Linked DNA regions of Homo sapiens. The protein of the gene in region 3 interacts with the protein of the main gene of each other region in a pairwise test. Each region holds a gene or a part of one and is shown on either strand. Other genes may lie near its edges.

Evidence for each region. The genes of interacting proteins can lie anywhere in the genome.
Region 1: the proteins of SLC38A9 (region 3) and TM4SF5 interact in binary tests that used the Homo sapiens proteins (3 or more experiments, as listed by UniProt).
Region 2: the proteins of SLC38A9 (region 3) and LAMTOR4 interact in binary tests that used the Homo sapiens proteins (3 or more experiments, as listed by UniProt).

What each region holds. Positions count from the first base shown.
Region 1 is NC_000017.11:4,774,652-4,782,106, forward strand, and holds part of TM4SF5 (transmembrane 4 L6 family member 5), read left to right. Parts: intron 1-6,137; coding exon 6,138-6,218; intron 6,219-7,455. UniProt on the Homo sapiens protein: Acts as a lysosomal membrane arginine sensor.
Region 2 is NC_000007.14:100,143,726-100,152,138, forward strand, and holds the start of LAMTOR4 (ragulator complex protein LAMTOR4), read left to right. Parts: upstream 1-5,192; 5' UTR 5,193-5,247; coding exon 5,248-5,250; coding exon of another isoform or gene 5,251-5,328; intron 5,329-5,773; coding exon 5,774-5,854; intron 5,855-8,413. UniProt on the Homo sapiens protein: As part of the Ragulator complex it is involved in amino acid sensing and activation of mTORC1, a signaling complex promoting cell growth in response to growth factors, energy levels, and amino acids.
Region 3 is NC_000005.10:55,667,005-55,674,459, reverse strand, and holds part of SLC38A9 (neutral amino acid transporter 9), read left to right. Parts: intron 1-1,764; coding exon 1,765-1,897; intron 1,898-4,580; coding exon 4,581-4,702; intron 4,703-4,839; coding exon 4,840-4,903; intron 4,904-5,138; coding exon 5,139-5,232; intron 5,233-7,455.

The sequences.
Region 1 (7,455 bases), on a different chromosome or scaffold from region 3:
AATCCCAGCACTTTGGGAGGCTGAGGCAGGCGGATCACCGAGGTCAGGAGTTCACGACCAGCCTGACCAACATGCAGAAATCCTGTCTCTACTAAAAATACAAAAATTAGCCAGGCGTGGTGGCGCATGCCTGTAGTCCCAGCTACTCAGGAAGCTGAGGCAGGAGAATTGCTTGAACCCGAGAGGCGGAGGTTGCAGTGAACCAAGATTGCACCATTGTACTCCAGCCTGGGCAACAAGAGTGAAACTCTGTCTCAAAAGTAAAAAATAAAAATAAAATGAAATGGTGCTGGCATGAAGAGCTCCTAGGCAAAGCAGATGCCACTTTTTATAGGATTTTCAGGGACAGGCTCTATGAGGTGATGTCTGAACTGAGACCCAAATGACAAGAAGAAGGTGTGAGTGTTGCAGACACTAGGGGCTGGTAGTACAAAGCCTAAGGTGGGAACAAGCTCTACACTTCTGAGGATCAGACAGGTGGCCGGTGAGGTGAGATGTAATGAGATGAGGTCTGAGGAGGGCAGAGGCTAGGCCTGGAACACCCTGAAAAGCCACAGTGGAGTCATTTGAATTTTTATTATTATAAGTACAACAGAAAACTATTGAAGGACTTTTTTTTTTTTTTGAGACGGAATCTCACTGTGTCGCCCGGGCTGCAGTGCAGTGGTGCGATCTCGGTTCACTACAAGCTCCACCTCTTGGGTTCACGCCATTCTCCTGCCTCAGCCTCCCGAGTAGCTGGGACTACAGGCGCCCGCCACCACGCACAGCAAATTTTTTTTTTTTGTATTTTTAGTAGAGATGGGGTTTCACCGTGTTAGCCAGGATGGTCTCGATCTCCTGACCTTGTGATCCACCCGCCTCGGCCTCCTAAAGTGCTGGGATTACAGGAGTGAGCCACCGCGCCATGCCCTATTGAAGGACTTTTGGCACTTTGTTTTTTGACGGTTTAAAACTTTTTATTTAAGTCACACAGACAAGTACCCAGATCCTTAGTACACAGCTCAACAAACTTTTACAAAGTGAGCACATCTGAGCCCAGGTCAAGAAACAGATCATTACCAGAAGCCCAGACATGCTTCTCACCACACACGGAACCCCAGAATCACTTCACCAACAAGCGTAACCACTATTCTGTCTTCTAACCCCATAGACGAGTTTGGCTTATTTTGCACTTTACACAAATGGAATGATAGAGTATGTGTCTGGCTTTTTTTTGAGACGGAGCTGTTGCCCAGGCTGGAGTGCAGTGGCGCTATCTCAGCTCACTGCAACCTCCGCCTCCCAGGTTCAAATGATTCTCATGCCTCAGCCTCCAGAGTAGCTGGGGTTACAGGCATGAGCCACCACGCCTGGCTAATTTTTGTATTTACTTTAGTAGAGATGGGGGTTTCGCCATGTTGGTCAGGCTGGTCTCGCACTCCCGACCTCAGGTGATCCACCCACCTCGGCCTCCCCAAGTGCTGGGATTACGAGCGTGAGCCACCGCGCCTGGCCTGTGTCTGGCTTCTTTAGCTCCATATTACGTTTGTGAGAGCCACCCATATTATCAGGTGTAGCTGTAGTTTTCTTTTTTTCTTATACATTCTATTATGTGACTATACCTCATTTATACATTCTACTGTTTGTTTGTTTGTTTTTTTGCTTTTTTGCTTTTTTGTTTTTTTTGAAACAGAGTCTCGCTCTGTCACCCAGGCTGGAGTACAATGGCGCCATCTCGGCTCACTGCAACCTCTGACTCCCAGGTTCACATGATTCTCCTGCCTCAGCCTCCTGAGTAGCTGGGATTACAGGCATGTGCCACCGTGCCCAGTTAATTTTTGTATTTTTAGTAGAGACGGGGTTTCGCGATATTGGTCAGGCTGGTTTTGAACTCCCAACCTTAGGTGATCCGCCTGCCTCGGCCTCCCAGAGTACTGGGATTACAGGCATAAGCCACTGTGCCCGGCCCATTCTACTGTTGAAGGAGATCTGGATCATTCCCAGTTTGGTTTTTTTGCAAATAATGCTGCTATAAATATTCTTGTAGATGTATTTAGGTACAAATACGTGTGCATTTCTATTGGATAAAAACCTAGCAGTAAAACTGCTGATTCTTAAGACATGCAAGTATTCAGCGCTAATAGATATTGCCAGTTTTCTGTAGTTCTTAGTGTGAGAGGTCTGGTTGCTCCACACGCCACTGGAATGAAGAAGACTCCTTTGACCACTGTGTGGAGAATGGGTAGTAGAAGGTCTGCAATATATACAGAAAAAGACCAAACTGAGCTGGGCGTGGGGCCTCAAGCCTGTAATCCCAGCACTTTTGGAGGCCGAGGCCAGCGGATCATGAGGTCAGGAGTTCGAGACCAGCCTGACCAACATGGCGAAACCCCGTCTCTACTAAAAATACAAAGTTAGCAGGGCATGGTGGTGCATGCCTGTAATCCCAGCTACTCGGAAGGCTGAGGCAGGAGAATCTCCTGAACCCAGCAGACAGAGGTTACAGTGAGCCGAGATCATGCCACTGCAATCCAGCCTGGGTGACAGAGCAAGACTCCATCTCAAAAAAAAAAAAAAAGAAAAAGAAAAGACCAAACTGAGGTCACGGAAGACATCCAGGAGAGATGAGAGTGGCTTGGACTAGGCCAGTGGCTATGGAAATGGAGAAATATGAGCTGATTCAGGCTATAAGCACAGTGTTTTCTTCTTCATTTATGATGACACTTTTCACTAAGACAAAAAGATGGTGAAGAATGAGACAGAGAAGCACATACTACAAAGGGAAGCAAACACTTTAATCAAAAGAGTAAAAATCTCAAATAGGGCCAGGTGTGGTGGCTCATGCCTGTAAAATCCCAACACTTTGGGAGGTGGAGGCAGGAGAATCGCTTGAGTCCCAGCATTCAAGACCAGCCTGGGCAACATAGTGAGACTCTATCTCAACAAAAATTTTAAAATTAGCTGGGTCTGGCCAGGTGCGGTGGCTCACACCTGTAATCCCAGCACTTTGGGAGGCCGAAGCAGGCTGATCAGCTGAGGTCAGGAGTTTGAGACCAGCCTGACCAACATGGAGAAACTTTGTCTCTACTAAAAATACAAAGTTAGCAGGGCGTGGTGGCGCATGCATGTAATCCCAGCTACTCGGGAGGCTGAGGCAGGAGAATCACCTGAACACGGGAGGCAGAGGTTACAGCGAGCCAAGATCGCGCCATTGCACTCCAGCCTGGGCAACAAGAGCAAAACTTCGTCTCAAAAAAGAAAAAATTAGCTGAGTGTGGTGGTACAAGCCTGTAATCCCAGCTACTCTAATGCTAAGGTGAGAGGATCACTTGAGCCCAGGAGGTCGAGGCTGCAGTGAGCCATGATCATGCCACTGCACTCCAGTCTGGGCAACAGTGTGAGACCCTCTCTCAAACAAAAGCAGAAACCTCAGACAAGTAGATCATTCAAAATTGGTAAATCCAAAAGGCAATTCTAGGTGTGTTTGGATCCACAAGCCTCCAGTAAGTGACCTAACCAGGGAGGTAAAGTAAGGTGTCAGCATGGGTCCTGGCCCTGCCATGAGACAGGAAGAAGAGAGAGCAGGTGTTTCTCTGAGGTTGCTGGGGATGATATAATAGAACTGAAACTCTCAGCCCTTTCCCTGGAGAAGCACAAAATGCTGCCTTGGATGGTATGTGCCAGATAAGACACATGAGGAGCCAGGCACAGTGGCTCATGCCTGTAATCCCAGCAATTTGGGAGGCTGAAGCAGGAGGATTGCTTGAGCCCAGGAGTTCGAGATCAGCTAGGCAACATGGTAAGACATGAACTCTCCAAAAAAATTAGCCAGGCATGTTGTTCCGCACCTTTAGTCCCAGCTACTCGGGAGGCCGAGGTGAGAAGATCATTTGAGCCCAGGAGGTTGAGGATGCAGTGAGCCATGATTGCACCACTGCATTCCAGCCTGGATGACAGAGTGAGATCCTGTCTCAAAAAGCAAACACACACACACACGAAAGCAAGAAGCAAGACAGCTGTGGAATTCCAGAGATAGGAGACAGGCAAAGAACCTGACCTGGTGCAACGAAGATAAAGGTAACGGAGCCAGATGAGGAGGCTTAAATGCCTTACAAGAGTTAGGCGTTCAAGTTACAAGTCTTGGCCAGGCGCGGTGGCTCACGCTTGTAATCCCAGCACTTTGGGAGGCTGAGGCAGGCGGATCACGAGGTCAGGAGATCAAGACCATTCTGGCCAACATGATGAAACCCCGTCTCTACTAAAAATACAAAAAATTAGCCCGGCGTGGTGGCATGTGCATGTAGTCCCAGCTACTCAGGAGGCTGAGGCAGGAGAATCACTTGAACCTGGGAGGTGGAGGTTGCAGTGAGCCAAGATCACACCACTGTACTCCAACCTGGTGACAGAGTGAGACTCCGTCTCAAAAAAAAAAAAAAAAAAAGAGTTCAGTCTTGATGGGCTTCTCTGTGAAGAGACCCTAAAGGATTTGAGCAGAGAAAAGACCAGTTGAAAGCTATGTTTAGGCCAGATGCAGTGACTTACACCTGTAATCCCAGCAATTTGGTAGGCCAGGGCAGGAGGAGCCCAGGAGTTCAAGACCAGCCTGAGCAAATAGCAAGACCCCATGTCTACAAAATTTTTTTTAATTAGCTGGGAATGATGACGCATGCCTGCGATACCAGCTACTCAGGAGGCTGAGGCAGGAGGATCACTTGAGCCCAGGAGGTCAAGGCTAAAGTCAGCCACGATCAAGCCACTGCATTCCAGCCTGGGTGGCAGAGTGAGACCCTGTTTCAAAAAGAAAGAAAGAAAAAAAAAAGCTATGTTTAACCTGATAGAGGATAGAGTGTAGGGTGGCATGGGGCAAGAGCTATGAGAGTGTAATAGGGAGGCTGAGAACACCCTCATGGGAGGTGATGAGGGATTCAATGTGGGGAGGAACTCACAGATTCAGGAGCCACTTAAGTAAAAGTTGAGAAAATTTGATGTCTTTCTGGGTGCAAGATTAAAGCTTTCCAGCCTGGCTGACCTAGTAGATGTTATTTTTTCCACTGATGGAGACAAGAAAGTCAAAGGGAGATGAATTTGAGGAATATTGTGAGATGAGCGTGAGGCTGGTTGAATTTGAGCTAAAACCAAGATATTCAAGTGAACATAGGATCTGGAGGCATCAGTTTTGGAGGCAACTTCTGGCAGAGTGAAGAGCTGATTCCCTGAAAGGGGATGGGCATTGTTAGGAAAGCCACAGGGAGAAAAAAAGACCAAGGCTTGAATCTTGGAAAATGCTACACTCCATATCAGACCATCCACTAGCACTCTTCCACACTCTACTGTAATCCCAATTCACCAGACACTCCAACACCTCTATCCCTTCCTGCTGCTGAGGGAACTTATAAATATTGAGTTACTCTGAGCTGGTCTTTTTTTTTTTTTTTTTTTGAGATGGAGTTTCGCTCTTATTGCCCGGGTTGGAGTACAGTGGCACGATCTCAGCTCACCACAACCTCCACCTCCCAGGTTCAAGTAATTCTCCTGCCTCAGCCCCCCGAGTAGCTGAGATTATAGGCATGCGCCACCACGCCCGGCTAATTTTGTATTTTTAGCAGAGTTGGGGTTTCTCCATGTTGGTCAGGCTGGTCTTGAACTTCCGACCTCAGGTGATCCACCAGCCTCAGCCTCTCAACATGCTGGGATTTCAGGCGTGAACCACCGCGCCCGGCCTCTGAGCCAGTCTTAACACCTAGTCAGCTTGTTCTCCCATTAAATCCTGAGAACAGACCTGTGAGGTAGATCTTCCAGACCCATTTTATACAGGCAAAACTGAGACCCTGAGAGATGAATCAATTCATAGCATGTGAAGTAGTTTCCCTGATTTCCATTCAGTAGGGCACCTACTATGTGCCAAGATTGGGGAAAATAATGATATTGGGCCCTACCCTCTAGAGGCCACAATCTGGACAGAGATAAGGTAGGCACGTAAATAAGGATAAAGTAAGGTGAAGCCCAGCAGCTCCAGGAGACGTAGAGATAAGGTCTTCTACAGTCCAAAGGGCTGAAGGCATCACAGGCAGCTTCCTGAAGGAGGTAGGCACTGATGCAAGTCAGGCCTGGAGGATCTGGGGGGACGTGCTATAACAATGACTCTTGTCCCACAGGTACTGTGTCCGGGGATTGCAGCCGTTCGGGCAGGGGGCAAGGGCTGCTGTGGTGCTGGGTGCTGTGGAAACCGCTGCAGGGTAAGATCCAGATTAAGAAGGAATTCAGGGCTGGGGGTGGTGTCTCATGCCTGTAATCCCAACACTTTAGCAGGCTGAGGTGGGAGTACGGCTTGAGCCAGGAGTTCTAGACCAGCCCAGGAAACATGGCAAGATCCCTATCTCTACTAACAATACAAAAATTAGCCGGGCGTGGTGGCAAGCACCTGCAATCTCGGCTACTTGGGAGGCTGAGGTGGGAGGGCCGCTTGAGCCCAGGAGGTCCAGGCTGCAGTAAGCAGTGATTTAAAAAAAAAAAAAAAAAAAAAAAAAGAAGAGAAAAGATACAGAAATTAGCCAGGCGTGGTGGCGGGCACCTGTAATCCCAGCTACTCAGGAGGCTGAGGCAGGAAAATCACTTGAACCCTGGAGGCAGAGGTTGCAATGGGCCGAGATCACACCATTGCACTCCAGCCTGGGCAACAAGAGTGAAACTCTGTCTCAAAAAAAAGAAAAGAAAAGATACAGAAATTAGCCTGGTGTGGTGGTGGGCGCCTGTAATCCCAGCTACTCAGGAGGCTGAGGCAGGAGATTACGGTGAGCCAAGATTGTGCCATTGCATTCCAGCCTGGGCAACAAGAGCAAAACTCCGCCTCAAAAAAAATGTATTTTTATTTTATTTTACATTTATTTATCTTATTTATTTTAGACATAGTCTTGGTCTGTCACCCAGGCTGGAGTACAGTGGCACGATCTTGGCTCACTGCAGCTTCCGCCTCCCTAGTTCAAGCCATTCTTGTTCTTCCAGCCTCCCAAGTAGCTGGGATTACAGGCGCCTGCCACCACACCCAGCTAATTTTTATATTTTTAGTAGAGACGGGGTTTCACTGTTGGCCAGAGTGGTCTGAAACTCCTGGCCTCAGGCGATCTGCCCCCCTTGGCCTCCCAAAGTGCTGGGATTACAGGTGTGAGATATCGTGCCCAGCCTCGAGTCAGGTTTAAAATAAATTTCCCTTCAAACCCCGGGCTTGCAGTTAGGCTAACCTGAAAGCCAGCGGCCGCCGAGATTCACTGGGGTTGTAGTTCCCCCCTCTCCCCTTCACCCGCCTACCCCTCAGGATCATTGAGATCTGAGATTTGTGGGTGCCAGGGAAGGGTGGGGTGGGGCCTGGGAGTCCGCAGAGGAGCTTGTGTAGCTAGGAATTCCATAGAGAGTGCTGTGGTTCTGCAAGGACAGGTGCAGAAACAGAGTCCGAATTTCTAATTTTTTTTTTTTTTT
Region 2 (8,413 bases), on a different chromosome or scaffold from region 3:
CAACCTCCACCTCCCGGATTCAAGCGATTCTCCTGCCTCAGCCACCTGAGTAGCTGGGATTACAGGCACATGCCACCACGCCTGGCTAATTTTTATATTTTTAGTAGAGACGGGGTTTCAAAGTGTTGGCCAGGCTGGTCTTTAACACCTGACCTCGTGATCCGCCTGCCTCGGCCTCCCAAAGTGCTGAGATTACAGGCGTAAACCACTGCGCCCAGCCTAAAGTTATCTTTAACTTCATTCTGTGGTTTTATTATTACTTTTTCCTTTTTTTTTTTTTTGAGACTGAGTCTCGCTCTATCATCCGGGCTGGAGTGCAGTAGTGCGATCTTGGCTCACTGCAACCTCTGTCTCCCAGGTTCAAGGCCTGAGCCTCCCGAGTAGCTGGGATTACAGGTGCCTGCCAATATGTGCAGCCAATTTTTGAATTTTTAGTAGAGACAGGATTTGGCCGCTATCGGGGGAAATTCACCCCCAATATTTCACATAGCTTCTTTTCTATATTCCCTAAGAGTCGGCCGGTCTGAGAAATAAAGGGACAGAGTACAAAAAAGAGAAATTTTAAAGCTGGGTGTCCAGGGAAGACATCACATGTCGGCAGGTTCCGTGATGACTAATAAAAACCAGCAAGTTTTTATTAGTGATTTTTTCAAAAGGGGAGGGAGTGTACGAATAGGGTGTGGGTCACAGAGATCACATGCTTCACAAGGTAATAAGATATCACAAGGTAAATGGAGGCAGGGCGAGATCACAGGACCACAAGACGGGACAAATTAAAATTGCTAATGAAGTTTCGGGCACGCATTGTCATTGATAACATCTTATCAGGAGACAGGTTTGAGCAGACAACTGGTCTGACCAAAATTTATTAGGCGGGAATTTCTTCGTCCTAATAAGCCTGGGAGCGCTACGGGAGACTGGGGCTTATTTCATCCCTACAGCTTCGACCATGAAAGACGGCCGCCCCACAAAGCGGCCATTTCAGAGGCCTACCCTCAGGGACACACTCTCTTTCTCAGGGATGCTCCTTGCTGAGAAAAAGAATTCAGCAATATTTCTCCCATTTGCTTTTGAAAGAAGAGAAATATGGCACTGTTCCACCCGGCTCACCGGCAGTCAGAGTTTAAGGTTATCTCTCTTGTTCCCTGAACATTGCTGTTATCCTGTTCTTTTTTCAAGGTGCCCAGATTTCATATTGTTCAAACACACATCCTCTACAAACAATTTGTGTTAACACAATCATCACAGGGTCCTGAGGTGACATACATCCTCCTCAGCTTACCAAAATGACGGGATTAAGAGATTAAAGACAGGCATAGGAAATCACAAGGGTATTGATTGGGGAAGTGATAAGCGTCCATGAAATCTTCACAATTTACATTCAGAGATTGCAGTAAAGACAGGCGTAAGAAATTATAAAAGTATTAATTTGGGGAACTAATAAATGTCCATGAAATCTTCACAATCCACGTTCTTCTGCCATGGCTTCAGCCAATCCCTCCGTTTGGGGTCCCTGACTTCCCACAACAGGCCACGTTGGCCAGGCTGGTCTCAAACTCCTGAGCTAAAAAATTAGCCGGGCGTGGTGGCAGACGCCTGTAGTCCCAACTACTCGGGAGGCTGAGGCAGGAGAATGATGTGAACCCGGGAGGAGGAGTTTGCAGTGAGCTGAGATCACGCCACTGCACTCTAGCCAGCCTGGGCGGGAAAAAAAAAAAAAAAAAAAGAGAGAGACAAACTCAATAGAAAAATGAGAAAAGAGTTGAACTGGGCCGGCATGGTGGCTCATGCCTGTAATCCCAGCACTTTGGGAGGCCGAGGTGGGTAGATCACTTAAGGTCAGGAGTTTGAGACCAGCCTGGCCAACATGGTCAACATGGTGAAACCCCCTTTCTACTAAAAACCCAAAAAAATTAGTCGTGCCTGGTGGTGCGTGCCTGTAATCCCAGCTACTCGGGAGGCTGAGGCAGGAGGATTGCTTGAACCTGGGAGGTGGAGGTTGCAGTGGGCCGAGATCGCACCACCGCTCTCTAGCCTGGGCAACAGAGGAAGACTATCTCAAAAAAAAAATAAATAAATAAGCCAGTTGCAGTGGCTCATGCCTGTAATCGTAGCACTTTGGGAGGCCGAGGCAGGTGGATTGCTCTGAGCTCAGGAGTTCAAGACCAGCCTGGGCAACACGGTGAAACCCCGTCTCTACTAAAAATACAAAAAAAAAAGCCGGGATGGCAACGTGCCCCTGTAGTCCCAGCTACTTGGGAGGCTGAGGCAAGGGAATTGCTTGAATCCAGGAGGCGGAGGTTGCAGTGAGCCAAGAGCGCACCATTGCACTCCAGCCTGGGCAACATAGCAAGACTCTGTCTCAAAAAAAAAAAAAAGTTGAACTGATACTTCACAAAAGATGATATCCCAAAAGCCAAACCTGTCTGAAAATGTGATCAACCTCATTAATATTTAGGTAAATGCAAATAAAAACTACAATGAGAAGCCATCGCATATCCAAAAACTTTACCCTAAAAGTGTGGCAATACTGGCTGGGCATGGTGGCTCAGGCCTGTAATCCCAACACTTTGGGAGGCTGATGCAGGCAGATCACGAGGTCAAGAGATCAAGACTATCCTGGCCAACATGGTGAAACCCATCTCTACTAAAAATACAAAAATTAGCTGGGTGTGGTGGTGCGCTCCTGTAGTCCCAGCTACTCGGGAGGCTGAGGCAGAAGAATTGCTTGAACCCGGGAACCAGGAGGTGGAGGTTGCAGTGAGCTGAGATTGCGCCACTGCACTCCAGCCTGGGCAACAGAACAAGACTGTCTCAAAAAAAAAACAAAAAACAAAAAGTGTGGCAATACCATGTGTTAATGGAGCTGGAGATAACTGGGAACTCTGACACATTGCTAGAGGAGTGTGAGTTGGTCCAACCAGTTTGATTTGCAGACCATAGATAAAAAAGATAGGAAACTCTCTGATTCATTTTATCTGGCAACCTGCTCTTTCTACCAAAAGCAGATAAAGAATATACCAAAAAGAAACTACAGCCCAATCTCATTTATCATAATAGATTTTAAAAATTCTAAATAAAGCAGTAAAACAAATGGGTAGTATAATTTGTTCCAGCAGATTTTATTCCAGAAACACAAAGATGGTTAAATATCAAGAATACTGCCACCATAATTTATTACATCAAAATCTTTTTTTTTTCTTTTGAGACGGAGTTTCATTCTTGTTGCCCAGGTTGGAGTGCAATGGCACAATCTCAGCTCATTGCAACCTTCGCCTCCTGGATTCAAGGATTCTCCTGCCTCAGCCTCCCCAGTAGCTGGGATTACAGGCATGCACCACCACACCCACCTAGTTTTTTTTTTTTTTGTTTGTTTGTTTTGTATTTTTAGTAGTGATGAGGTTTCACCATGTTGGCCAGGCAGGTCTCGAACTCCTGACTTCAGGTGATCCACCCGCCTTGGTCTCCCAAAGTGCTGGGATTACAGGTGTGAGCTACCACGCCCAGCCTTGAAATTGCTGTTTCTAACAAGTCTTAAAAGACACCCAGACTTTAACAATTGTTATTATATTCAGATTTTTTTGTTGCTTTTTGAGACAATCTTGCTCTTTTACCCAGTCTTGAGTGCAGTAGCATGATCATGGCTCACTGCAGCCTCAACCTCCTGGGCTCAAGCGATTCTCCCACCTCAGCCTCCCGGGTAGCTGGGACTACATGTGCAGTATCATGCCTGGTTAATTTTTAAATTTTTAGAGATGGGGTCTTGCTATGTTGCCCAGGCTTCTAGAATCATTCTTCATATTATTTCACTAACACAGCCTCCACCACATTAATATGGCAACAGGTTTAGAAATTATTTAAAACAAAAATTTCTAATGTTTACATATATTGTGTGATGTGTGTGTGTGTGTGTGTGTGTGTGTGTGTGTGTATCATTCCAAGGTACTGTTTCTAATTTTTTCCTGTAGGGAATGAATATTCAGTATTGCAGCTGCATTGGCTAGCTGGGGATTCTATTTACCACCACATTGTCCCGGACTGAATCTGGGGACAAAAAAACCACTTCGGGAACAAATTCTTGTCTTCAACAAAGAGCTGTCTTGAGTAGGCACAAAAGTAGCATTTGAGGGCCGGACGCGGTGGCTCAAGCCTGTAATCCCAGCACTTTGGGAGGCCGAGGCGGGCGGATCACGAGGTCAGGAGTTTGAGACCAGCCTGGCCAATATGGTGAAACCCTATCTCTACTAAAAACACAAAAATAGCCGGGCGTGGTGGTGGGCGCCTGTAATCCCAGCTACTCGCGAGGCTGAGGCAGGAGAATTGCTTGAACACGGGAGGCGGAAGTTGTATTGAGCCAGAGATCGCGCCATTGCACTGCAACCTGGGCGACCGAGTGAGACTCCGACTCAAAAAAAAAAAAAAGTAGCATTTGAGTACCTTTTTTTTCCTTTTCTTTTCTTTTTTTTTTAGAGGAAGGGCACCCAGGCTGGAGTGCAGTGGCACCATAATAGCTCACTGCACTCTGCAACTGCTGAGCTCAAGAGATTCTCCTCCATCAGCCTCCCTAGTAGCTGGAATTACTGGCGTGAGGCACCATGCCCGGCTTATTTTCTTATTTTTTTGTAGAGGTGGTTGGAGCGGGGGGACTGGGGAGGGTCTCGCTATGTTGCTCAGGCTCGTCTCGAACTCTTGCCCTGAAATGATCCGTCCTCGGCCTCGCAAAGCGCTGAGATTACAGGCGTGAGCCACGGCGCCCAGCCTTGAATAGTTTTTCACATGCATTGCACGTTATTTCCTTTTATTCTCTAGTTTTTGGGTCCAGTCTTAAACCTGGGAAGGGATTCATTTGGGGGGGTCACACCAGCGGGCATCCTGGCTCAGGCGGAACTCTGGCTCCAGACAGTGCGCCCAGGACCAAACGGTCAACCCCGGCCTACTCCCGCCCCTCCCAGATCCTCCCCTCCTCGGACGCTCCCGCGTCTTCCTCTCGCTCAGGCACTGAGGGGCGGGGAGATGGGTGTTAAAGAGGGGATATCACCAATCAACGTGCGCCTCCGGGAAACAGCGCTTCGCACTGGCTGGTTGGGTCTGACGACGTGGCCACTGTCCAATCCTCATGCTAGAGGCGGGGCTAAAGGCCAGTGGCGCAAGCAGAAGGAGGAGCGCAGCGGCTGCAAGCACGTGACCGGGGCCTGAAGCCGGAAGCTACCTATCTGGTAGGGAGCTCCCCCAGCACCGAAGACTGCGATGGTGAGTGAGGACGCATGCGCGAGAGGACCCGCCGGGGGTTCAGCGTCTCTGCTCCCCAGTCTGTGTGGTTTCCCCCTGGTGGGCCTGCGCTCCACCCTCACCTCCTATCCGCTCGGGGAGGAAGAGGGGATGGAAATGGGAGGGATGGCGACGAGAATGCTGGGGAGGGGTCTGTGGGAGGGTGTTCTGGGGCTGCGGGTAGTCTGCAGGTCGGGCGGAGACGAAGGGAGGTGAAGAGAGGGTCTGGGGGCAGGGGCCAGTGGGGCAGCAAAGGCCCCTTGGGGTAGCAAAGGTGGGATGTGGAAGGCCAGGGGAGCCCGGGGGCGAGAGTGGGGGCAGATGGAGGCTCGGGAAGATCAGTATTGAGGACCATGTAGGGGGGAGGGGGCCGGGAAGGGACCTGGCTGGGGAATGAGAAAACCTGGGGCCATCGTCAACCCAGAGACTTGGGTTTGCAGGTGAAGGGTATCGGGCCGTCCATCCCTCTAGCATGCTTCTCACGACTTGCATCTTTACCCACTAGACTTCTGCGCTGACCCAGGGGCTGGAGCGAATCCCAGACCAGCTCGGCTACCTGGTACTGAGTGAAGGTGCAGTGCTGGCGGTGCGTTCTGGGAAAGGGAGGGGGTCCCTTAGTGCACACAGCCCGGTAACCCCTTCTAATATTGGCCCTTCTTTTCTCGGCTTTTATCTGGTTTCCTGCCTGGCATCTATTAGGTTGGTACAAAAGTATTTGCAGTTTTTGCAATTACTTTCAGTAATCAGTCTGTGGAATCTTAGTCTCCTAACGGCTGCGATTTATTTATTTATAGTTTTTGAGACTGAGTTTCGTTCTTGTTGCCCAAGCTGGAGTGCAGTGGTGCGACCTCGGCTCACTGCAACCTCCGCCTCCGGGGTTCAAGCGATTCTCCTGCCTCAGCCTCCCGAGTAGCTGGGATTATAGGCACGTGCCACCATGCTCTGCTAATTTTTTGTATTTTTAGTAGAAACGGGGTTTCACCGTGTTAGCCAGGCTGGTCTCAAACTCCTGACCTCAGGTGATCCACCTGCCTCAGCCTCCCAAAGTGCTGGGATTACAGGCGTGAGCCAACATGCCTGGCCTTTATTTGGTATTTCTTAAAAAGGCATTTGTATTTTGTTCCATAGTACTGTATGGTGTTAGGTCTCTAGATTACAGGCGTGAGCCACCACGTCTGGCCTTTATTTGGTATTTCTTAAAGAGGCATTTGTATTTTGTTCCATAGTACTGTATAGTGTTAAGTCTCCAGATGTTTTTGACTTAGGTAGAGACAAAGCTTAAGGTTAAGGGTTGAAAACAATACAGGTGGTAAAGACTATTGAGGGAATCCAGGATATTAAAAATTCAACATGTTATGACAAGGTAACTAACTTTCCGGGAGGTAGGAATTCAGCCCACCTTAAAGGAGAGTATTTACAGTGGGGGAGGACTTATTTGCAGGTGTGTGGCACTAACCTATCTGAACTGATGGTAAGTTTATGCTGAAAAGATTTGGGAAGGTTTGAGGGAAGAGAGGAGGATATGGTCAGGGAGGATGTAATTGTGAAGGATCTTCAAGGCCAGGTTAACACACTTGAACTTATTCTTGAAGGTAATACAGTTTGAAAGGTTTTTTAAAACAGAAACAAGACCCAGTGAGGTGGTTGAGCAATATTGTTGTTAGTGATGTGAAGATGGGCAGAAGGAGGCGTCATTAAGAGATGAGACTGGGCTGGGCGTGGTGGTTCATGCCTGTAATTCTAGCACTTTGGGAGGCCAAGGCGGGCGGATCACGAGGTCAGGAGATCGAGACCATCCTGGCCAACACGGTGAAACCCCGTCTGTACTAAAAATACAAAAACAAAATTAGCCAGGCCTGGTGGCGGGCACTTGTAGTCCCAGCTACTCGGGAAGCTGAGGCAGTAGAATGGCGTGAACCTGGAAGGTGGAGGTTGCAGTTAGCCGAGATCACACCACTGTACTCCAGCCTGGGCGACAGAGCAAGACTCCGTCTCAAAAAAAACAAAAAAAAAAAGAGATGAGACTGGGCAAGTGGTGGTAAGAAGGAGGAGCAAGGAGAGAAGAGTTTTGTTTTTGTTTTTTTTTGTTTTTGTTTTTTGAGACAGAGTCTCGCTCTGTGGCCCAGGCTGGAGTGCAGTGGCATGATCTCAGCTCACTGCAACCTCCGTCTTCCGGGTTCAAGTGATTTTCCTGCCTCAGCCTCCTGATTAGCTAGGATTACAGGTGTGCACCACCATGCCCAGCTAATTTTTGTATTTTTAGTAGAGAGAGGGTTTCACCATGTTGGCCGGGCTGGTCTCGAACTCCTGACCTCATGATTTGCCCGCCTCAGCCTCCCACCCAAAGTGCTGGGATTACAGGCATAAGCCACTGCACCCGGCCTGTTTTTTTGTTTTTGTTTTTGTTTTTTTTGAGACGGAGTCTCACTCTGTCACCCAGGCTGGAGTGCAGTGGTGCAGTCTCCCCTCACTGCAAGCTCCGCCTCCCGGGTTCACGCCATTCTCCTGCCTCAGCCTCCCTAGTAGCTGGGACTACAGGCGCCCGCCACCATGCCCGGCTACTTTTTTGTATTTTTAGTAGAGATGGGGTTTCACCATGTTAGCCAGGATGGTCTGGATCTCCTGACCTCGTGATCCGCCTACCTCGGCCTCCCAAAGTGCTGGGATTACAGGTGTGAGCCACAGCACCCCGTCCTGTTTTTTTGTTTGTTTGTTTTTTTTTAAGATAGAGTCTCGCCGTCACTCAGGCTGGAGTGCAGTGGTAACGATCACATCTCATTGTAGCCTTGAACTCCTGGGCCCAAGCAATCCTCCCGCCTCAGCATCCCAAGTAACTAGAACTACAGGCAAGCACCACCACGCCCAGCCATTAAAAAAAAAAAAAAAATGTGTGGAGACAGGGGCCTTGCTATGTTGCCCAGGCTGGTCTCAAACTCCTGGCCTCCAGCATTCCTCCTGCCTTGGCCTCCCAGAGTGCTGAGATTACAGGCATGAGCTCCTGTGCTTGGCTGGAAGAAGTTATTTTAAAGGAGGAATCAGTATATCTTGCTAATGACTAGAAATAGGTAATAGAGGAAATATTTCTGTAGCCAGAACTCTAAAGCCTGGAAGAGTGATGATGCCTTAAGAAACATGTCCCTGCGTG
Region 3 (7,455 bases):
TGATATTAACCTGCTCCCAAGATAACGTCATTAATCTGTTTGTGAACTCAGAGCCCTCATGACCTAATCACCTCTTAAAGGTCCCACTGTTGGGACTGTTGAATTGGAGATTTTCTTCCAACACATAAACTTTGGGGGACATATTCAAACCACAGCACTAGTATATATAATATGTCATATTGATCCCTATATCCACATATTTGCTCTATAAGTGCTCTATTTACATATTCATTGAGTTGACCTATATAGTACCCAGCATATTTAGGTTTTGCGGTAGAGAACAAATAGTAAAAGATTCAAAGATTCTGTATGCTAACTAGAGAGATAAAACTAAGTTTAACACCTCTGCTACCATTTCTCAAATATCACAGAATTAATAAGAAAAATAGCAGAAATTAAATGTTCAGTCACTTGGCTTTTCAAGTACTTCCCACAAGATTAGATTAACGGCTGGGTGAGGTAGCTTATGCCTGTAATCCCAACTCTTTGGGAGGCCAAGGCAGGTGGATCACCTGAGGTCAGGAGTTGGAGACCAGCCTGGCCAACATGGTGAAATCCTGTCTCTACTAAAAATACAAAAATTAGTCAGGCATGGTGGTGCACACCTGTAGTCCCAGCTACTCTGGAGGCTGAGGCCAGAAAATTGCTTGAACTCAGGAGGTGGAGGTTGCAGTGAGCCGAGATCGCACCACTGCACTCCAGCCTAGGCGATAGAGTGAGACTCTGTCTCAAAAAAAAAAAAAAAAAAAAGATTAGATTAACAGTATCTCCAGAAATGGTTACCATATGTTACTACATTTTAAGTTCCTTTCAGAACCATAAGTATAGAGGAGTTAGTGGAACCAATGATAAATCTGGATTTTTTTTCTTCTTTCTTTGGATCTGTGCCTGAAATGGCAAATTATGTGCAATTTGGGGCACAGTGTCACTTATGATTTCAAGGAGCCTAAGAATCAGCAGAGGGATACAGTCTTTTGATAAAACTCTGCCTGGTCTTTTCATTTTGGATAGTATATTACTGGAAACTTCAGAAGAAAATGAGGGAGTTTCAGAAAGGAACTGAAGAGGTTGATGACTGAAAAGGATGATTGAACACCAAAATCTGCAGTTGATTAGGATGCAGACGTGGAAAGGAAGCATGTATATAAATAAAAGGGTATGTTACTAAAATCCGCAAAAAGTAGAATGAGGCAAAATATCTCCATTGTCATGATGTTCCATTTTATACTGAGTTGGATAAGTCTCATAAGGGATCTGATAGTTGAGGTCACTAATCCTTAATACATGAACCAAGGAATAAGAATTCTGTTTATCATAGGAAATAACTTGGGCCCATAAGGAAGGAGTAGAGACTCTTCAGGAGAGGGACATTTTAGTCCATAATTTCTCTGATTTAGTGCCAAAAGCTTTTTTGAGAGACTATTCAAAGCTGTCTTAAGTTTCATTGTTGGAAATTGATAGCTGCTGTATTTCTTTTTAATAACTGTTTTAAGTTCTTTCTGTTTTGTCTTCTCGGTTGCTAAATTCCTGAAGATTACAAAAAAAGTGTGCTTAAAGTAAAAGTGTTATGAGACAAAAGCTTTATTCTGTGGATAGGATAATACTTCTTTTGTAACATTTTCTGTTTGCACCAAAAGTGAGAAGTCAATGCCTTGCCTTTGTGCATCCCATTACTAATGGAGGATAAGAAGTTATTTTCTTCAAAGGCTGACTTCCAGAATTTTTGGCTGAACACTTTTTGTCAAGTGTATATTCCCTTTGTAGGCCTTTCTGTATAGAGCCCACAAACATCGTGAATGTGAATCATGTCATTCAGAGGGTTAGTGACCATGCCTCTGCCATGAACAAGAGAATTCATTACTACAGCCGGCTCACCACTCCTGCAGACAAGGCACTGGTAAGAGACAAAACATTACTAATAGTCTAAAATTCAGTTGAAATGAACAGTGAACAATATAAGCCAGGGCACCTCCCAGTGATTGAACTTCTTTCTGACTGTATTTCAAGGACAGCATCATGCAAAGTCAAAGATAGTAATTAACACACATCCTACATCTCAGGCCAGTTCATTCTTATCTAAATTTGAAACAATGTTTCTATGTTGACAACAACCTGGAGATTTTTTTGGATTAAATTCTCCTGATCCCCATTCCCCAAATCTCTGAGGAGGATAAATTACTTTTGAAATGGCAAGTTAGGCCATTGACTAATAGCAAATAATAACATGTTCTGCTTAGTGTGGACAATTTTAACTTTGAAGCTGTAAGGGAAATATTTTTTTAGAAATTTTCTACAAGAATGGGAAACTGGCCAAGCACAGTGACTCACTCCTGTAATCTCAGCATTTTGGGAGGCCAAGGCAAGAGGATCACTTGAGCCCAGGGGTTCAAGACCAGCCTGGAGAAGATGGTGAAACCCTGTCTCTACAAAAAAAAATTTTTTTAATTAGCCAAGCATGATGGCTCGCACCTATAGTTCCAGCTACTTGAGAGGCTGAGACAGGAGGATCCCTTGAGCCCAGGATGGATCCCTTGAGGATGCAGTGAGCTGTGATTGTGCCACTGCATCCCACCCAGACTGAGCAAAAGAGTGTGACCCATCTCTTTTTTTTTGAGATGGAGTGTCGCTCTATCACCCAGGCTGGAGTGCAGTGGCGCAATCTCGGCTCACCACAACCTCTGCCTCCTGGGTTCCAGCCATTCTCCTGCCTCAGCCTCCTGAGTAGCTGGGGTTACAGGTGTGCGCCACCACACCTGGCTCATTTTTGTATTTTGAGTAGAGACACGGTTTCACCATGTTGGCCAGGCTGGTCTTGAACTCCTGACCTCGTGACCCACCCACCCTGAGGTGCTGGGATTACAGGCGTGAGCCACTGTGCTCCCAAAGTGCTGGGATTACAGGCGTGAGCCACTGTGCCCGGCCATGTGACCCCATCTCTTAAAAAAAAAAAAAAAGAAGAATGGGAAACTGAAATATGTACACATAAATATAGTAGTTTCTTATTTAGCATTATTCTTTTATTGATCAAAACCAGGAGTCAAAGAGCCAGATACTAAATGTCTTAGACTTTGAGGTCACATGATATTCTTCATTTTGTTTATGATCATCAAAATTATAAATTATAAAATTTATAAAATTATAAAAACCATTCTCAGGAAAGAGGCTGTATAATAATCAGGTTGAAACCAGATTTGGCCTATGGGCCGGAGTTTGTTGACCCTTGATCTTCTAAAAATCTCTATTACTATTTTAGGATAAAAAATATATATAAGTAATTTGGTAGTTTATAAAAACTACCGCATATGAGATAGTCAGAAACTTGCAAGTTTAACTGAAAATAAGAACATTCTGGGAGAAAACAGGATTTTGAAATTAGTATTATTAATAAAAAGAAGAGAACCAACATTCATTAACATTTAATAAGGACCAGTGATTGGGCATCACTGGAATGTAGCTATCTCATTTAAGCCTAAACAATAGCTATGTGAAATAAATATTAAGATTTCCTCTTGTATGGCCAAAATAGGGATTTCCAAAATGTTCTGGGTAGGATAATTTTTTTCCCAATTTTTTTTTCGGCTTTTTCCCCTTAGGCCTTGACATCAGTAGTTGTGGCGAAGTCTTAGTTCCATAATGGAATTACTTAAGCCCTTGGAGGAGTAGAGATAATCCTGTATCTCTGGGTCTAGTTGAGACCTTCTAGAGGCTCTGCTCTTGGAAACAAACCTCCAAGATCCCAGATGAGCAAGTTTATACCTGCATGTATATTGTTTGCCTGGAAATAGAGTCAGCATGTGCACCAAAGTTGAATGCCATTTGTTAACTGACACTGAGATGAGTCTAGGAAGTCAAAATATATAAACAGTGATGTAAAATTGACAATGATATAACCATTCTTAATGAATGTGTGTATACATCCACACTCGTTTTCTGAAAATCCCAAAACTATTTTGGATTTTTAAACTCTTGCTTTTTTAGTTAGATTTTCTATATTTGAAAAATAATTTTTAAATTCACTAATCAGGGATGCATAGTACTTGCATCCACACTCGTTTTCTGAAAATTCCAAAATTATTTTGGGTTTTTAAAACTTGCTTTTTTAGTTAGTTTTTCTATATTTGAAAAGTCATTTTTTAATTCACTAATCAGAGATTCATAGTACTTGTTTATGATAGTTAAAATGTGTCTAGAGGGCCAGGCGTGGTGGCTTACGCCTGTAATCCCAGCACTTTGGGAGGCCGAGGCGGGTGGATCATGACATGGTCAGGAGATCGAGACCATCCTGGCTAACATGGTGAAACCCCGTCTCTACAAAAAAATACAAAAAATTAGCCAGGCGTGGTGGTGGGCACCTGTAGTCCCAGCTACTCGGGAGGCTGAGGCAGGAGAATGGCGTGAACCCAGGAGGCGGCGCTTGCAGTGAGCCGAGATCGCGTCACTGCACTCCAGCCTGGGCGACAGGGCGAGACTCCGTTCAAAAGAAAAAAAAAGGTGTCTAGAGTCAGGTGTTCTGATGTGTAACAAATATCCTATTTTGCATTTCCTGGTTCTGAAATTTATCTATGTTTCCTTTTTACCAGATTGCCCCAGACCATGTAGTTCCAGCTCCAGAAGAGTGCTATGTGTATAGTCCATTGGGCTCTGCTTATAAACTTCAAAGTTACACTGAAGGATACGGTAAAAACACCAGTTTAGTAACCATGTGAGTGAAACTGCTTTTTGGAGCATGACTTAAACTGTATATGGATGAAAATTACTGGTTTTTTAAATTTTTGTCTCAATTAAAATGTTTGAAGAGTGAAACTCCATTTTTTTACTGCTATTACTCTGTGTTTTCAGTTTTATGATTTGGAATACCATGATGGGAACATCTATACTAAGCATTCCTTGGGGCATAAAACAGGTAATACTAATTTTTCAGCACACTTTTTGCCTAAATGTTTTTCTCTTTATATTGTAAGTTTTATAACAGAGGTTTTAATAAATCTACATAAAATTCATTAAAGAAAATAGATGGTTATATTTAGTTTTTCATGAGTTGTCAAGTTTTTATCATGATTGTTTAGGGTAAAATAATTGCATATGAATTTATGCTTACATGATGATATATGCTGTTTTATACTTTTATTTTTAAACAGGCTGGATTTACTACTGGAATGTGTGTCATCATACTGATGGGCCTTTTAACACTTTATTGCTGCTACAGAGTAGTGAAATCACGGACTATGATGTGTAAGAATTTGACACAGTGACAATAGATTATGGGTATTAATAAGCATTTCCCTTTGAGGCAGATCACTAGTGTGTATATGCTACATGTGTGTCAGCTGTCTACTTTGTACCTAAAGATTTACTTCTGTAATTCATCGCTTTCAGCTAAATTGATTTGCTAATAATATTTAGTGGCTGCTTTTGAAATTCAGAGAAGCTGGGAGTTATTTGCAGAGTGCATTCACTTTGGTGCTAGTTTCTTCATAAGAATCATTTAAAAACTCATATTTATAAAATAATGTCTTTGCCAAAACTAAATTGAGAATTCTGTGCTTCCTGTCAGTTAATGGTGACTTGTTTTGACCTATTCATACCAAAAGATCTAAATGTTAGAATCTGCTAAAAGTAGAAATTATAACTAGAAAAATATGAAAATGTAAGCAACTCCCTAGTAATGAATATTTGAAGTTGTGTGAACACCTTACCTCTACTCGTATCTACAAATTCTGGATCAGGGAAATATCTTTTTTAGGTTGTTTTAAAGTAGTCTAGGACCTAAACAAACATGCATTATTTCATTAAATCTTAGCAAGTATGAATCAACAGGCCAGACTTTGCCTCCAGTTTTTTTCTGTGCCTACTAAGCAGCTTCCTTCTTTATGTTAACCAGATCTCCTATTAGTCACTGGGCAAGTATTTGTTTAAAAGTCTTGAGAAGCCAGACCTGGTGGTGTGTGTCTGTAGCCCTAGCAACTCAGGAGGCATAGGTGGGAAGATCACTTTAGCCCAGGAGTTTGGGGCCAGCCTTGGCACTGTAGCAATACTTCATCTTAAAAAATAAAAAATAAATAAAAAATAAAAAAGTCTTGAGAGAAGATTCATTCTGGTTTCTAAATGGTAAGAGGAGATAATTTTAGCCTCTGGTTTCTAAGGCAAATTGTGGCTGAACTTGGAAGACTTCTTTAAATGTATACAGTAAGTTCATGTCTTATCTAATTCAGCATCTCATTTAAAATTGGAACAGAGCCCCCACAGAGTTCTCTCTATAACTGTTTTTTCTTTTATTTTCCTTTTTTTTGGAGACAGGATCTCACTGTCACCCAGGCTGGAATGCAGCAGCGCTATCACAGCTCACTGCTGCCTGGACTTCCCGGGCACAGGTGATTCTCCCACCTCAGCCTCCCAGGTAGCTGGGACTACAGGTGCATACCACCATGCCCAGTTAATTTTTTGTATTTTTCATAGAGACAGGGTTTCACCATGTTGCTCAAGTTGGTCTCGAACTACTGGGCTCAAGTGATCTGCTCACCTCTGCCTCCCAAAATGCTGGGATTATTGGCTCTATAACTGTTAACTTCCATGTTATTAAACTACTCCACACCATTTAAAAAGAAGAGAGGCTGAGGCACGAGAATTGCTTGAACCCAGGAAGTGGAGCTTGCAGTGAGCCAAGATTGTGCCACTGCACTTCAGCCTGGGTGATGGAGTGAAACACTGTCTTAAAATAAAATAAAATAAAATAAAAATAATAAAAAGAAGAACTTCCACCAATTCATTTTACAAAGTCCACACACCCCTAACACAAAGCCTGACACTACCAAAAAGAAAGAAAATAATATAGAAACGTAAAATTTATTTGTAAAACATTATCATATAGAATCCAACAGTATATCAAAACATATCCTGTGCCTAAGATAAGGTTTATTCCAGTAATGCAAGGATGTTTCATTATTAAGAAATCCAACATAATTCACTACATTAACAAATTAAAGAAAAATTCATAATTACATCAATAGATATCAAAAAGGCACTTAATAGAATTCAGCACCTGTTTCTGATTAAAACTCTAAGTGAAAAGCACTACTTAAAAATAGCAAAGTCTATTTATTCCCAGACAAGTACCGGCACCATTCTAAAATTATGAAATGCTAAAGCAGTTTTCATTAAAGTCAAGAAAACATAGAAATATTCATAATTAATCAGTTTTTTTTGGAGATATTGTCAAATGCAGCAAAAAAAACCCTAAATAATATAAAAACTAGAAGAGACTTAGAATTATATTATCAGTCAAAAGATAATTTTATTAGAAATGCTAAGAGTCACTCAGCTCAATGCAACCTCCTCCTCCCAGGTTCAAGCAATTCTCATGCCTCAGCCTCCCGAGTAGCTGGAACTACAGGCGCCCACCACCACGCCTGGTTAATTTTTGTATTTTTTGTATTTTTATTTTTTTTGAGACGGAGT